2 separate regions of the Homo sapiens genome follow, and region 2 is linked to region 1. The links come from fine-mapping of genetic effects on gene expression. Tissue or cell type: cerebral cortex. Region 1 holds a variant in brackets; the other region holds the start of a gene. All regions are shown on one strand. Distances are between the middles of the regions.

Region 1 (8,241 bases):
TAGCATTATGTTACTGGATATTTCTGTAAAATTTAAAATGAGGGAGGCAGAGAGACAGAGAGAGAGCAAACTCCAGAGTTGGGACTCTGGAATCTTGAGTCATGAGACAAATTATAGATAAAACTACAAAAATCCAGAATTTACATGTGTGGTTTTTGCTGATAAAGTACAATTCTAAGATTGTAAATAATTGCATAATCCTTCCCTGGGAATTTAAATCATTTGAACTGGTTCTGCTGTAATACTAGAAATACAAGCATGAACAATTCTAATGGTTTATTAGTCACAATGACTCTGAAAACACTAATAATACCTATTAGATATTTTGCATATTACACAGGAAGAAGAGTTCGAATCTCAGATAAAAACAATAAAAATTCATGAAAAGTCTTTCATGTTAGCACAGATTTTAGGCATCTCATGTTTGGGAGGTTGGATCTAAGACATGTTTTGAGTTGGTCATAGTGAAGGACGCGAGGTGTCAATTCTAGTGAGAGCAATTTCCAGGAAGCCATGTTCTGCTCTTGAGCGAGCACCCACTGGGCCTCATGCAAGGTAGAAAAAGCCTGCGTACGTCACCCTCCCATGATGTGGTCAACATGTAAACTGCATGGGCAGGGCGCCAAATAACATCCTGTGCGCTGCTGAGCTGAGCTGGGGCGCGGCCGCCTGTCTGCACCGGCAGCACCATGTCGCTCATGGTCATCATCATGGCGTGTGTTGGTGAGTCCTGGAAGGGAATAGAGGGAGGGAGCGTGGGGATGGAGATCTGGGCCCAGAGGTGGAGATATGGGCCTGGAGGTGGAGTTATGGGCCTGGAGTGGAGATCTGGGCCTAGAGATGGAGTGATGAGCCTAGAAGTGGAGATCTGCGCCTGGAGTGGAGATCTGGGCCTGGAGTGAAGATCTGGGCCTGGAGTGGAGATATGGGCCTGGAGTGGGGATAGGAACCTGGAGTGGAGAGAGGAACCTGGAGGAGAGATAGGAACCTGGAGGGGAGGTAGGAGCCTAGGGTGGAGATATGGGACTGGAGTGGAGATATGGGACTGGAGTGGAGATATGGGCCTGGAGTGGAGTTATGGGCCTGGAGTGAAGTTATGGGCCTGGAGGTGGAGATACGGGCCTGGAGTGGAGATATGAGCCTGGAGTGGAGATATGGTCCTGGAGTGGAGATATGGGCCTGGAGTGGAGATATGGGTCTGCAGTGGAGTTATGGGCCTGGAGTGAAGTTATGGGCCTGGAGGTGGAGATATGGGCCTGGAGTGGAGATATGGGACTAGAGTGGAGATAGGGGCCTGGAGGTGGAGATCTGGGCCTGGAGTGGAGATCTGGGCCTGGAGTGGAGATCTGGGCCTGGAGTGGAGATATGGGCCTGGAGTGGAGATATGGGTCTGCAGTGGAGATATGGGCCTGGAGGTGGAGATATGGGCCTGGAGTGGAGTTATGGGCCTGGAGTGAAGTTATGGGCCTGGAGGTGGAGATATGGGCCTGGAGTGGAGATATGGGACTAGAGTGGAGATAGGGGCCTGGAGGTGGAGATCTGGGCCTGGAGTGGAGATATGGCCCTGGAGTGGAGATATGGGCCTGGAGTGGAGATATGAGCCTGGAGTGGAGATATGGCCCTGGAGTGGAGATATGGGCCTGGAGGTGGAGATATGGGCCTGGAGTGGAGTTATGGGCCTGGAGTGAAGTTATGGGCCTGGAGGTGGAGATATGGGCCTGGAGTGGAGATATGGGACTAGAGTGGAGATACGGGCCTGGAGGTGGAGATCTGGGCCTGGAGTGGAGATATGGCCCTGGAGTGGAGATATGGGCCTGGAGTGGAGATATGAGCCTGGAGTGGAGATATGGCCCTGGAGTGGAGATATGGGCCTGGAGTGGAGATATGAGCCTGGAGTGGAGATATGGCCCTGGAGTGGAGATATGGGCCTGGAGTGGAGATATGGGCCTGGAGTGGACATATGGGTCTGGAGTGGAGATACGGGCCTGGAGGTGGAGATATGGGCCTGGAGTGGAGATATGGGCCTGGAGGTGGTGATATGGGCCTGGAGTGTAGACATGGGCCGAGTGGAGATATGGGTCTGGAGTGGAGATATGGGCCTGGAGTGGAGATATGGGACTGGAGTGGAGATATAGGCATGGGGTGGAGACATGGGCCGGGAGTGGAGATATGGGACTGGAGTGGAGATACGGGCGTGGGGTGGAGATATGTGCCTGGAGGTGGAGATATGGGCGTGGGTTGGAGATATGGGCCTGGAGTGGAGATATGGGCGTGGGGTGGAGATATGGATCTGGAGTGGAGACATGGGCATGGGGTGGAGATATGGGCCTGGTGTGTAGATATGGGCCTGGAGTGGAGATATGGCCCTGGAGTGGAGATATGGGCCTGGAGTGGAGATCTGGGCCTACGGTGGAGATATGGGCCTAGGATGGGGATATGGGCCTGGAATGGAGATATGGGCCTGGGTGTGGAGATATGGGACTGGAGTGGAGATATGGGCCTGATGTGGAGATATGGGCTTGGAGTGGAGATATGATCCTGGAGTGTAGTTATGGGCCTGGAGGTGGAGATCTGGGCCTGGGGTGGAGATATGGGCCTGGAGTGGAGATATGGGACTGGAGAGGAGATATGGGACTGGAGTGGAGATATGGGCCTGGAGTGGAGATATGGGCCTGGATTGGAGATATGGGCCGAGGGTGGAGATCTGAGCCTGGATTGGAGATGTGGGCCCGGATTGGCTATATGGGTCTAGGGTGGAAATATCGGCCTGGAGTGGAGATATGGGCCTGGAGTGGAGATATGGGCTTGGGGTGGGGATATGGGCCTGGAGGCTGGGTCTCTGCACAGCCGAGAGCACTGTTCTTGGGTGCAGGTAGGCTCTGATGGTGAGTTTCCCTTCGGCCCAGGAAGGGGCTGGCTATCAAGACTCACAGCCCAGTGGGGGCAGCAAGGAAGGCCTTGTTTGCCTGCAAATGGATCTTCCATCATGATCTTTCTTTCCAGGGTTCTTCTTGCTGCAGGGGGCCTGGCCACAGGAGGGTAAGTCCTTCTCCAAACCTTAGGGTGTCATCTCCCCACATAAGAGGATTTTCCTGAAACGGGAGGGAAGTCCTGTCAGGGAGTCTCTCATAAACTAGGAAGAGGGGACCCTGGGGTGCTCGGCCCACAGTTCCGACCTTGCCTCCCTGGCCTCTCAACCCCTTGGCAGAGTCAAGTTGTGTGGGGACCAGGGTTGGACTAGGGTGTTCAAAGCTGGGTTGTGTGGTGGGGAAGTGGTAGGAACAGCAGATCCTCTGAGGACAAAGGTGTTACTCACACACTTCAGCGTTTCCATGACGGTAGGGGCTGCAGTGTGGCTGCTGTCATTCTACCAGAAGAGGTGGGAAACCACAGCCATGGCCCTGACATTCCAAATCCTCTGATGGGGGCTAAGTTTTTTATTTTCATTCAGGCAACTGCTGATATTCCATTCTCAAAGGACATGCCCTCCACTTCATGTCTACCCTGTGTTGTTTTATGTCAGTAATCTTACAGTATTAAAATCTAGTAGGAGTCTCTTACTCAGCACTTGCTCAAAGTTCTCAGCTGACACTTTTGTTGTACGGAGACACCTTGTCTTTGTGGGATGGGTCCTTCCTTTAGCCCTAGGCACCAAGGTGTGATAGCAGCCATAGAAATGTGGAAAGTGGGGAGAATCTTCTGAGCACAGGGAGGGAGGCACAGCTCCACATCCTCCTCTCTAAGGCGGCGCCTCCTTCACCCCAAGGTGGTCAGGACAAGCCCTTGCTTTCTACCTGGCCCAGCCTTGTGGTGCCTCCAGAACATGTGACTCTTCAGTGTCACTCTAATCTTGGGTTTAACAACTTCAGTCTGTACAAGGATGATGGGGTGCCTGTCCCTGAGCTGTACAACAGAATATTCTGGAAAAGCCTTTTCATGGGCCCTGTGACCACGTCACATGCAGGGACCTATACATGCCGGGGTTCACACACACACTCCCCCAGTGGGTGGTCGGCACCCAGCAACCCCCTGGTGATCGTGGTCACAGGTCAGAGGGCTCCTGTCTGGGATTCTCCTTGTCCCACCTCCTGAATCCCAGAGCTTCTGGTAGGCATGTCCTTGAGGGTCCCATCACGCAGGCCCTAACTGTATTTGGGGTAAAGGGGGATTGAATACAGGGAAATGGGTGCTGTGGTGGGAAGAATAAGTGTCCCCAGTGATGACTGCATTCTAATCCCTGGAGTCTGTGACTATTTATGTTATAGGGGAAGGGACTGAAGGGGAAGATGGAGCTCAGGTTGTTGATGAGTTGACCTTGAGATGGGGAGACAGCCTGGACTGTCCCGGTGGGCTCAGTATA[A/G]TCACAAGTGTCCACATGAAAGGAGGAGGAAGAGGAGAGTGGGGATTAGAGCAGCGTAGTGGGAGACTCCATCAGCTTTGAAGGTGGATGAAGGCCATAAGCCATGAATGCAGGTGGCCTATAGAGGCTGGGAAAGTCAAGTAACTGATTCTCCTGAGTCTCCAGAGGGAACACAGCCCTGCAGATGCCTTGATTTTAGCCCTCGAAAAACAGGGTCCGCTTTCTGTCTCCAGAATCGGAGGGGGTCAGTGTGCTCTCTCCTGCTGCCATGCTTCTGATAATTTTCTACAGCAGCAACAGGAAACCAACACTGGAACCCAGGTCAAGGACAAGTTAAGAAAAGACACAAGGATAGCCAGGCATGGTGGCAGGTGCATGTAATCCTAGCGACTCGGGAGGCTGAGAGCAGGAGAATCGCTTGAACCCAGGAGACAGAGGTTGCAGTGAGCGTAGACCACACCACTTCACTCCAGCCTGGGTGAAGGAGTGAGACTCTGTCTCCAAAATTAATTAATTAATTAAAGAAACCAAACAAAGAGAAGGTTGGCTACACCGAGATCAGCAAGGGTGGGATGATGATGCCACCACCAGGCTCCATCCACATAGGGAGGGGTTGATACTCCTCAAATCAGCACGAGGAGCCAGCCTATGGAAACTGGCACCATGGAGAAGGCACAGACATGGCAAGAGTGGCTCCCAGTCCCCACCAGGAACAGGGTGTGTGGACACTGGTGCCTGCCTTACTGATCAGTTCATACCTCCTGCCAAGGATTCCAATTCGTCCAAAAGAGATTGAACCAAGCTGCTAAGAGCCGGGACGTGCAGCCTATCCTGCTTCCTCTTCCACTCCCACATAGACAGTAAGAAAGACATTAGTGTGAAATAGATACAACAGCCCAAGAGATGAGGCTGAGCCCAGTGGGAAGGGAATCACAGCTACTAGAGACAGAGGGACAGAGAAGAGGGAGGGAGACAGATGGAAGGACCTGCACCAGGAGTTATGGGCACAGAAAAGAACATGAAGACACAGAGAGGAAGCAGAGAGACAGACACCAGCGAAGGGAAGGCTCACTCATTCCAGGTGCCATGGATGGGATGATAAAGAGAGACACCTTCTAAACTCACAACCTCTCTTCCTAGGAGTCCACAGAAAACCTTCCTTCCTGGCCCTCCCAGGTCACCTGGTGAAATCAGAAGAGACAGTCATCCTGCAATGTTGGTCGGATGTCATGTTTGAGCACTTCCTTCTGCACAGAGAGGGGAAGTTTAACAACACTTTGCACCTCATTGGAGAGCACCATGATGGGGTTTCCAAGGCCAACTTCTCCATTGGTCCCATGATGCCTGTCCTTGCAGGAACCTACAGATGCTACGGTTCTGTTCCTCACTCCCCCTATCAGTTGTCAGCTCCCAGTGACCCTCTGGACATGGTGATCATAGGTGAGAGTGTCCAGACATTCTTCTCATTGTCATTGGGATGCAGAGTGAATGATCCAGGACTTGGAGACCCAGGTGGTTGTAAGGAAGATGAGCTTGGTATTCTTATGGAGAGAGACTGACTTGGTGAGGTCTGTGCCAACAGAGACAGAGAAACAAGAGACACAAGTACAGACCAGGTGTCATAACAGAGGACAAACACAGGGGCCATACAGGGAGTTAGAAAAGACAGAAAGAGTTAAAGGAGACAGACAGACATGTCCCAGACAGAGGTGTCCTTCCATGCTGACTTTGCTCAGAGACCTGGCACAGGTTAGAAGTTTCATTTCTGTTTTACCTCCACAAAGTGTTCTCTACCAGGAGAACCCAAGGACACCCATATTTCTGACCTGAGTTGGGCCCTGTGGCCTCAGGCCTTGTGGCACCTACAGATGCCATGCTTATTCTGACACCTCTGACTTCCATGCAATGGAGAATAATCGTCCCAAAATATCATGGCCCCAGAACACCAACCCCTGTATGCTGTGTGAACTTGTGGTCTCCAGACTGGATTCTGAGGCTCACATTCCAAATAACCCCACATATCACATATGAGAGGATCACTGAGAAGCACAGAGAGAAATCAGGGACACCAAAAAGCAAAGACATAAACACACAGAGAAAGAGCCAGAGGAAGGAGATTGAGAGACTCACAGACACATAAAGAGAGAGAAGAGGGCAGAGAAGTGGAGAGAATGATGGAAGAGAGCAGAGAAAACCACTAAAATTAGAGTCCTGAGGGCGAGGCACAAGGGCATAGAAAGATGGAGATGTGGGGATGAATTGCAGAGATTCCAAAGAGAACTAGAGAGACCGAGAGGCAGAGCAAGACAGATGATAGATGGATAGATACAGATAGATGATGGATAGATATAGATAGATGATATATAGGTAGATGATAGATAATAGGTTATAGATACATAGATGATGATTGATTGATTCATTAATAGATGATACATAGAGATGATGATGATGAAGATAGATGGATAGATAATACATAGAGATAGAGAGGAAGACAAAGAGAGAAATAATAGAGAGAGAGAGATGATACATATATATAGATAATAGATGATTGACGGATAGACAATTGATAGATAAATAGATGATATATAGATATAGATGACAGGTAGAGAATTTGTAGATAGGCACCGAATAGATAAATAGATGGATTGATAGATAATAGATAGAAATATGCAGAAAGTTATGAACGGGACACAAACTGAGAAACTCAGAGTTAAAAAAAGTAACATCAAGTCAACCAATCCAAGGAGAGCCAGAGAGAATAAAACAATCCAAAAACGGAAAACATAACTAGAGGTAGGGAAGTGAGGTCAGAGACCTACAGAGACAGAGAAGGTGGAAGGAGGAAATAGACATGAAGAGAGATAGGGTGGAGGGTGAGACAGAGAAAGAGAGCATTAGGCCATAGAGCAGGGGAGTGAGTTCTCAGGTCAGGTGTGAGGGGAGCTGTGACAAGGAAGATCCCCCCTGAGGAAACTGCCCCTTCTCCTTCCAGGTCTATATGAGAAACCTTCTCTCTCAGCCCAGCCGGGCCCCACGGTTCAGGCAGGAGAGAATGTGACCTTGTCCTGCAGCTCCATCTATCCAGGGAAGGGGAGGCCCATGAACGTAGGCTCCCTGCAGTGCGCAGCATCAACGGAACATTCCAGGCCGACTTTCCTCTGGGCCCTGCCACCCACGGAGGGACCTACAGATGCTTCGGCTCTTTCCGTGACGCTCCCTACGAGTGGTCAAACTCGAGTGATCCACTGCTTGTTTCCGTCACAGGTGAGGAAACCCCATATCTGTCCCATGTCCTATGATCCTAGAGCCTTAGCTGAGGAGCTTCCTGCTGATGATGGAGAGAAGCATGGACAGATGCAGAGAGAAGACGCAGCATGCCTGTGAGGGAGGGATCAGGGCGCAGGATGGCACACACAGCACCTCCAAACCCTCCTGCATGGCCTGCATGGAGGCCTCCGATTAGGGCTCCAGAAACCCAGGCAGATGTAGAAAGCGGTCAGGAGAGACCCAGAGAAGGGGAGACTGGGCTCAGTTTGGGGAGATCAGAGGTTCCCTCAGCCCCTCAACCTTACCCATTTCCCAGAAGCCCTTCCTGGCCTCTCACCCACACAGAGATGTCATCACCAGCAACCCCTACATCCTTTTCTTTTTGTTTGAAAAAATATTCATTGAGGTTAAATATACCTATATAGCTTACCACTTTTAACATTTTTTTTTTTTTGAGGTGGAGTCTAGCTCTGTCTCCTATGCTGGAATGCAGTGGCACAATCTCAGCTCACTGTAACCTCCGCCTCCTGGGTTCAAGCGATTCTCCTGCCTCAGCCACCTGAGTAGCTGGTACTACAGGCGCCCATCACCACGCCGGGCTACTTTTTGTATTT
Region 2 (8,000 bases), 280 kb after region 1:
AGGGAGCTACGAGGGCCAAGAGCATGAGGTCATGGAAACTCGGGCTGTGAAGGGGCCGCACGTGCCCTGGGAACGGGATGAACTCGGCTCGTTTATTTCCACCCAGTTGTCATGGCGATAGGGGAGGGGGGCAAGGAGAGCAATGGGCCTTTCCCTTTCAAGGACCTGCCCAGTACAGGCATCCCTGTGAAAGATGCCTGAGGCCTGGGCACCAGGGACTCCAGAGTCCAGGCCCAACCCCTCCCCATTCAACCCAGGAGGCCAGGCCCCAGCCCTTCCGCCCTCAGATGAAGGAGTCCAGGCCCCCAGCCTCTCCCCATTCAGACCCAGGGGTCCAGGCCCAGCCCCGCCTCCCTAAGACCCAGAAGTCCAGGCCCCCAGCCCCTCCTCCCTCAGACCCACGAGTCCAGGCCCCAGCCCCTCCTCCCTCGGACCCAGGAGTCCAGGCCCCCAGTCCCTCCACCCTCAGACCCAGGAGTCCAGGCCCCAGCCCCTCCTCCCTCGGACCCAGGAGTCCAGGCCCCAGCCCCTCCTCTCTCAAACCCAGGAGCCCAGGCCCCCAGCTCTTCTCTGTTCAGCCCTAAGAATCCTGGCTCCAGCCCCTCCTACTCTAGCCCCCAACCCCCTAGCCACTAAGGCAATTGGGGTGCAGGAATGGGGGCAGGGTACCAGCCTCACCAAGTGGTTGATAAACCCACGTGGGGTACCCTAAGAACTTGGGAACAGCCACAGCAGGGGGGCGATGCTTGGGGACCTGCCTGGAGAAGGATGCAGGACGAGAAACACAGCCCCAGGTGGAGAAACTGGCCGGGAATCAAGAGTCACCCAGAGACAGTGACCAACCATCCCTGTTTTCCTAGGACTGAGGGTTTCAGTGCTAAAACTAGGCTGTCCTGGGCAAACAGCATAAGCTGGTCACCCCACACCCAGACCTGACCCAAACCCAGCTCCCCTGCTTCTTGGCCACGTAACCTGAGAAGGGAATCCCTCCTCTCTGAACCCCAGCCCACCCCAATGCTCCAGGCCTCCTGGGATACCCCGAAGAGTGAGTTTGCCAAGCAGTCACCCCACAGTTGGAGGAGAATCCACCCAAAAGGCAGCCTGGTAGACAGGGCTGGGGTGGCCTCTCGTGGGGTCCAGGCCAAGTAGGTGGCCTGGGGCCTCTGGGGGATGCAGGGGAAGGGGGATGCAGGGGAACGGGGATGCAGGGGAACGGGGCTCAGTCTGAAGAGCAGAGCCAGGAACCCCTGTAGGGAAGGGGCAGGAGAGCCAGGGGCATGAGATGGTGGACGAGGAAGGGGGACAGGGAAGCCTGAGCGCCTCTCCTGGGCTTGCCAAGGACTCAAACCCAGAAGCCCAGAGCAGGGCCTTAGGGAAGCGGGACCCTGCTCTGGGCGGAGGAATATGTCCCAGATAGCACTGGGGACTCTTTAAGGAAAGAAGGATGGAGAAAGAGAAAGGGAGTAGAGGCGGCCACGACCTGGTGAACACCTAGGACGCACCATTCTCACAAAGGGAGTTTTCCACACGGACACCCCCCTCCTCACCACAGCCCTGCCAGGACGGGGCTGGCTACTGGCCTTATCTCACAGGTAAAACTGACGCACGGAGGAACAATATAAATTGGGGACTAGAAAGGTGAAGAGCCAAAGTTAGAACTCAGGACCAACTTATTCTGATTTTGTTTTTCCAAACTGCTTCTCCTCTTGGGAAGTGTAAGGAAGCTGCAGCACCAGGATCAGTGAAACGCACCAGACGGCCGCGTCAGAGCAGCTCAGGTTCTGGGAGAGGGTAGCGCAGGGTGGCCACTGAGAACCGGGCAGGTCACGCATCCCCCCCTTCCCTCCCACCCCCTGCCAAGCTCTCCCTCCCAGGATCCTCTCTGGCTCCATCGTAAGCAAACCTTAGAGGTTCTGGCAAGGAGAGAGATGGCTCCAGGAAATGGGGGTGTGTCACCAGATAAGGAATCTGCCTAACAGGAGGTGGGGGTTAGACCCAATATCAGGAGACTAGGAAGGAGGAGGCCTAAGGATGGGGCTTTTCTGTCACCAATCCTGTCCCTAGTGGCCCCACTGTGGGGTGGAGGGGACAGATAAAAGTACCCAGAACCAGAGCCACATTAACCGGCCCTGGGAATATAAGGTGGTCCCAGCTCGGGGACACAGGATCCCTGGAGGCAGCAAACATGCTGTCCTGAAGTGGACATAGGGGCCCGGGTTGGAGGAAGAAGACTAGCTGAGCTCTCGGACCCCTGGAAGATGCCATGACAGGGGGCTGGAAGAGCTAGCACAGACTAGAGAGGTAAGGGGGGTAGGGGAGCTGCCCAAATGAAAGGAGTGAGAGGTGACCCGAATCCACAGGAGAACGGGGTGTCCAGGCAAAGAAAGCAAGAGGATGGAGAGGTGGCTAAAGCCAGGGAGACGGGGTACTTTGGGGTTGTCCAGAAAAACGGTGATGATGCAGGCCTACAAGAAGGGGAGGCGGGACGCAAGGGAGACATCCGTCGGAGAAGGCCATCCTAAGAAACGAGAGATGGCACAGGCCCCAGAAGGAGAAGGAAAAGGGAACCCAGCGAGTGAAGACGGCATGGGGTTGGGTGAGGGAGGAGAGATGCCCGGAGAGGACCCAGACACGGGGAGGATCCGCTCAGAGGACATCACGTGGTGCAGCGCCGAGAAGGAAGTGCTCCGGAAAGAGCATCCTTGGGCAGCAACACAGCAGAGAGCAAGGGGAAGAGGGAGTGGAGGAAGACGGAACCTGAAGGAGGCGGCAGGGAAGGATCTGGGCCAGCCGTAGAGGTGACCCAGGCCACAAGCTGCAGACAGAAAGCGGCACAGGCCCAGGGGAGAGAATGCAGGTCAGAGAAAGCAGGACCTGCCTGGGAAGGGGAAACAGTGGGCCAGAGGCGGCGCAGAAGCCAGTAGAGCTCAAAGTGGTCCGGACTCAGGAGAGAGACGGCAGCGTTAGAGGGCAGAGTTCCGGCGGCACAGCAAGGGCACTCGGGGGCGAGAGGAGGGCAGCGCAAAGTGACAATGGCCAGGGCCAGGCAGATAGACCAGACTGAGCTATGGGAGCTGGCTCAGGTTCAGGAGAGGGCAGGGCAGGGAAGGAGACAAAGTCCAGGACCGGCTGGAGGGGCTCAACATCGGAAGAGGGGAAGTCGAGGGAGGGATGGTAAGGAGGACTGCATGGGTCAGCACAGGCTGCCAAAGCCAGGGCCAGTTAAAGCGACTCCAATGCGGAAGAGAGTAGGTCGAAGGGGAATGGTAAGGAGGCCTGGGGCAGAGTGGTCAGCACAGAGTGGCTAAGCCCAGGGCCAGTTGAAGCGGCTCCAATTCGGAAGTGGGGTGGTCGAAGGGGAATGGTAAGGGGGACTGGGACGGGGTGTCAGCATAGGGTGGCAAAGCCCAGGGCCAGGAACGACGGGGCGGATCGAGACTGGCAACGGGGAAGGAGGATGCCCCAGGTGGCGCAGCAGAGGGTGGACCTGGCCCCGGGAGACGCCGGGCGGGGGGCGCTGACCTGGTGCAGGGCGCTGATACCGTCGGCGTTGGTGGAGTCCAGCACGGCGCGGGCGGGCGGCGGCGCGGCGGGGTCGAGCTCGGCGCCGGGGCCAGGGTCGGCGGCGCGCAGCATCAGACGCGCCTCGTCCAGGTCGCCGCCCGCACAGGCCGCCAGGAACTCGGCGGCGCGCTCGAAGCGGACGGTGCGGGCGCGGCGCTCTCCGGGGCCAGGCTCGGCGCCCGCCCGCGCCCCCCACTGCCGCAGCTGCTCCCGTCGCCGCTCCCGGGCAGCCGCCGCCGCCGCCCCCGGGCCAGCCGCCGGGCCATCCTCTCCGGACATCGCACCGCCCGCCCGCCCAGCGAGCGAGCGAGCGCCGAGCCCCAACCGCCGCCACCACCCGCCCGCCCGCCCGCCCCGGGGGCCGCCGGGAACTGCCGCTGGCCCCCCACCGCCCCAAGGATCTCCCGGTCCCCGCCCGGCGTGCTGACGTCACGGCGCTGCCCCAGGGTGTGCTGGGCAGGTCGCGGGGAGCGCTGGGAAATGGAGTCCATTAGCAGAAGTGGCCCTTGGCCACTTCCAGGAGTCGCTGTGCCCCGATGCACACTGGGAAGTCCGCAGCTCCGAGGCGCCCAGTGGAAATCGCCAGATGAGGGCCTCCTCCGGGGAATGCTGGGAAATGGAGTCTACAGGCCGGAGGGGTGCCCCACGGCATACTAGGAAGTGTGTAGCACCGGGTAAAGGGGATGAATAGCAGACTGCCCCGGGGCAGTTAGGAATTCGACTGGACAGCCGCGTGGGAGGGAGTGCGGGGAGAGGCAGAGTTGTTTTGTTATTGTTGTTTTATTTTGTTTTCTTTGTTTTGAGACGGAGTCTCGCTCTGTCGCCACGCTGGAGTTCAGTGGCGCGATATCGGCTCGCTGCAACCTCCGCTTCCCAGGTTCAAGCAATTCTGGCTCAGTCCCCAGAGTAGCTGGGATAACAGGCGCGCGCCACCCCGCCCTGCTAATTTTTATATTTTTAGTAGAGACGGGATTTCACCATGTTGGCCATGATGGTCTTGATCTCTTGACCTCATGATCCGCCCGCCTCGGCCTGTAATCCTGCTGGGATGACGAGCGTAAGCCACCATGCCCAGCTGGGTTTTATTTATTTTGGTTTTTTTCCTGACCCCTTAACTAGAAATAAGCTCCACGAGAGCGGGATCTTTTGTCTTCTGTGCACTACTTGTCCTCGGTTCTTAGAACAGAACCTGAGAGAACCTGATCGCAAATATTTTTGGAATGAATGAATGAATGGGTTCACCAGGGCACCATGGGAAACTGAGTCCGCAACCTAGAAGCCATGAAAGACAGTCCACTTCCAAGCTTCCCTGGGTGACCTCGCAGGGCATGCTGGGAAATGAAATTTGCGGTGAAAAGGTCAGGACCACGATCCTAGGGCACGCTGGGAAATGTAGCCCACAGGGCCACACCCCTAAAAGCACAGTGGGGTGCAAGGCAGGGCCCCAAGGCATTTAGGGCTCGGGGCAAGAGAAATCCACACTCCACTCCCTAATGGTAATCCCTGAGCCACACCGAGTAAAGGAACCCAAGACACAGTGTCCACAGGGACAGGGCTCTCAGAGCTTTCACTGGCCCGCGCTTCTCCTGCGCCCACCCGGACCTCCTGGGAACCGCCCAGGCCCTCGCGCGCTCTCAAGGCATGCTGGGATTGGTGGTCCCGGGCAAGGAGTTCCAGCAGGTGGGGGGCGAATCACCTTTCAGCGGGCCCAAGCGATGAGCACACCTTGATCTTCACCTTACGGATCCCGCGCCCAACTCAAGATTGGGAAGGTGGCTGGCACTTTGTGACAGGAAGAGTCCCATAAAAATCATACAGAAAAGGGCCAAAATCGGGACAGAGACTACAGACTGTTTCCCAAGCGCTGTGGGAGTTTCCCACCCACTCTGAAGTCCTTGGGTTTGCGCGGAGACGTAAACTGCGCATCCCACGAGGCCTGTTTCTTTCCCTCTCTCTTTCTCTTTTGTTGTTGTTGTTGCTGCTGCTGTTACGAAAATTTTTGTGGTTTTATTGTATCATGAGGCATTGAAACATCCGGCGACTCAATGTCTAGGCGGTGAGGCAGCCGCTTTCTCCTTCACTTTCTTTGGGTTAAGTAGAGCAACTTGTCAGTAGTTTTGTTTTTTTTTGTTGTTGTTGTTGTTTTTGAGACGGAGGCTTGCTCTGTCGCCCAGGCTGGAGTGCAGTGGCGCGATGTCGGCTCACTGCAAGCTCTGCCTCCCGGGTTCAAGCGATTCTCCTGCCTCAGCCTCCTGAGTAGCTGGGACTACAGGCGTGCTCCACCACGCCCGGCTAATTTTTGTTTTTTAGTAGAGACGGGGTTTCACCATGTTGGCCAGGCTGGTCTCGAATTCCTGACCTCGTGATCCGACTGCCTCGGCCTCCCAAAATGCTGGGATTACAGGCGTGAGCCGCCGCGACCGGCCAGATTTTTTTTTTTTTTAAAGGACAACCTTTTGCATTACTTAAGTCTTTCCAAGGCATGCGCTGGTACAACACAAACTTTTCCCATTACATGCAGCTAGTCTAGTGTCCAGACGTCATGCACAACACCTCCGTGGCATCAGCGCACTGCGCCCACTCCCACTGCGACCCTGCTCATTTGTGCATCATATCTGGAGGAGTGGCAATAGTTCTGGAAAGAGGAGGGAAGAGGAGGCAGCGTGAGGGCCCGGTGGAGAGGAGGTCAGCTGAAGTTGTGCAGAGCAAGCCTGCATATCATTGGTGCAAACCCAAGCATCATTGCATCGCTGATGTTTTGTTTTGTTTGGTTTTGTTTTGTTTTTGAGACGGAGTCTCACTGTGTCGCCCAGGCTGGAGTGCAGTGATGTGATCTCGGCTCACTGCAACCTCCGCCTCCCAGGTTCAAGTGATTCTCCTACCTCAGCCTCCCAAGTAGCTGGGATTACAGGCGTGCTCCACGCCTGGCTAATTTTTGTATTTTTAGTAGAGACAAGGTTTCACCATGTTGGCCAGGCTGGTCTCGATCTCCTGACCTCAAGTGATCCACCCGCCTCAGCTTCCCAAAGTGCTGGGATTACAGGCATGAGCCACCACACCCAGCTGATGTTCTTTAGTAGGAATATCTGGTGGAACCCCAAGATGGGGTCTTCATCCGCCACGAAGCCTGTTTCTATAGAAAGGGATAGTTCTGGTGGCTCTTAGGTGTGGTCCCTGAACCCCACACTTTCCACATACTTACACACCAACCTCCTTCCCCCAGGAAAACAAGAAGTCGGTCTTCAGGGTGTTACCGTGTAGCTCTGGTTCTGTATGTATTCTGTGCCTTTATGTATAATTGTGTGTATTTGCAATCATGTCTGTGGCTGGATGTATGTTGTTTATGAGTTTGTGTTTATGGTTTGTTTTTGTTTGTTTGTTTGTTTGTTTTGAGATGGAGTTTCACTCTTGTCATCGCCCAGGCTGGATTGCACTGGCGCAATCAAAAAAGAGTAAAATAACAGAAATCAGAATGGGCTTATAATACTCTTACCCCTCTCCACACAGGACAGAAGAGTCAATTTTATACTTTTGTGGATGTTCTAACTTCACCTGCTTATCTGAACCATCTTTATGGTGCAGACTAATATCTATTTTTCTGCTGTTACAGAAGAAGTGGGAACATTTTCTTCTTATCTTTCTGAGGTTATTTACACCAGTGAGGAGGGCCTGCAGTTCCAAGGTTAAGCACCAACATTCCACTGTTACCATTGAGAGCAAAGAGCAGACCCTAGAAGTGAAAACAAAACCTTTACCACAGGAAGACAAGAGCAAAAGATGATGTTCTTGAGTGGCATATGAAGATGCTCACAGCCAACATCACATGCCTATCAGATATTTTATGTACATCATCTCATCAACTCCAGGAGGCAGAGACTAAGAGACTAGCCCCAGTCACAGAGCTAGAAATTGGCCAAGACAAGGTTCAATCTGAGGACTGTCAAATCCAGAACTGGAATTTCTTTTTTTTTTTTTTTTTTTTGAGATGGAGTCTCGCTCTGTCACCCAGGCTGGAGTGCAGCGGCATGATCTCAGCTCACTGCAACCTCCACCTCTTGGGTTCAAGCGATTCTCTTGGGACTACAGGTGCACGCCACCACGCCTGGCTAATTCTTGTATTTTTAGTAGAGACGGGGTTTCACCATGTTGGCCAGGATAGTCTCAAACTCCTGACCTCATGATCTGCCCGCCTTGGCCTCCCAAAGTGCTGGGATTACAGGCATGAGCCACTGCACCTGGCCTTAGAAGCCTCAGTTCCTGATGGCAGTTGGGATCTGCCTTTCCTTCCCTGGACTGCCTACCTCTTGTCTTTTAGGTTACATATGAGAAAACAAACCTCCAATTCACCAAAACTATTGTTATTTGGGGAGCTGTCTCTTACTATCAGCCAAACATAACTCCTCAATGACACTGTTAGTTTAGCACTGCCATTATAA

The links. PIP is the estimated chance that this variant, and not a neighbour inherited with it, causes the effect.
Region 2: PPP1R12C starts here. The variant in region 1 is fine-mapped to the expression of PPP1R12C in cerebral cortex (GTEx, PIP above 0.99).

What each region holds. Positions count from the first base shown.
Region 1 is chr19:54,832,076-54,840,316 of GRCh38, forward strand. KIR2DS4 (killer cell immunoglobulin like receptor, two Ig domains and short cytoplasmic tail 4 (gene/pseudogene)) reads left to right here and starts at 632. Exons shown (of 7, transcript NM_001281972.2): 1 at 632-723; 2 at 3,004-3,039; 3 at 5,501-5,800; 4 at 7,353-7,624. The coding sequence starts at 690. The variant A/G (reference allele first, on the strand shown) is at 4,361.
Region 2 is chr19:55,113,701-55,121,700 of GRCh38, forward strand. It overlaps PPP1R12C (protein phosphatase 1 regulatory subunit 12C), which reads right to left and starts at 3,937. Exons shown (of 22, transcript NM_017607.4): 1 at 3,523-3,937. The coding sequence starts at 3,843. RefSeq lists enhancers at 1-154, 155-781, 2,333-3,168, 2,523-2,572, 2,973-3,052 and 2 more and silencers at 3,483-3,582, 3,603-3,682, 3,873-3,952.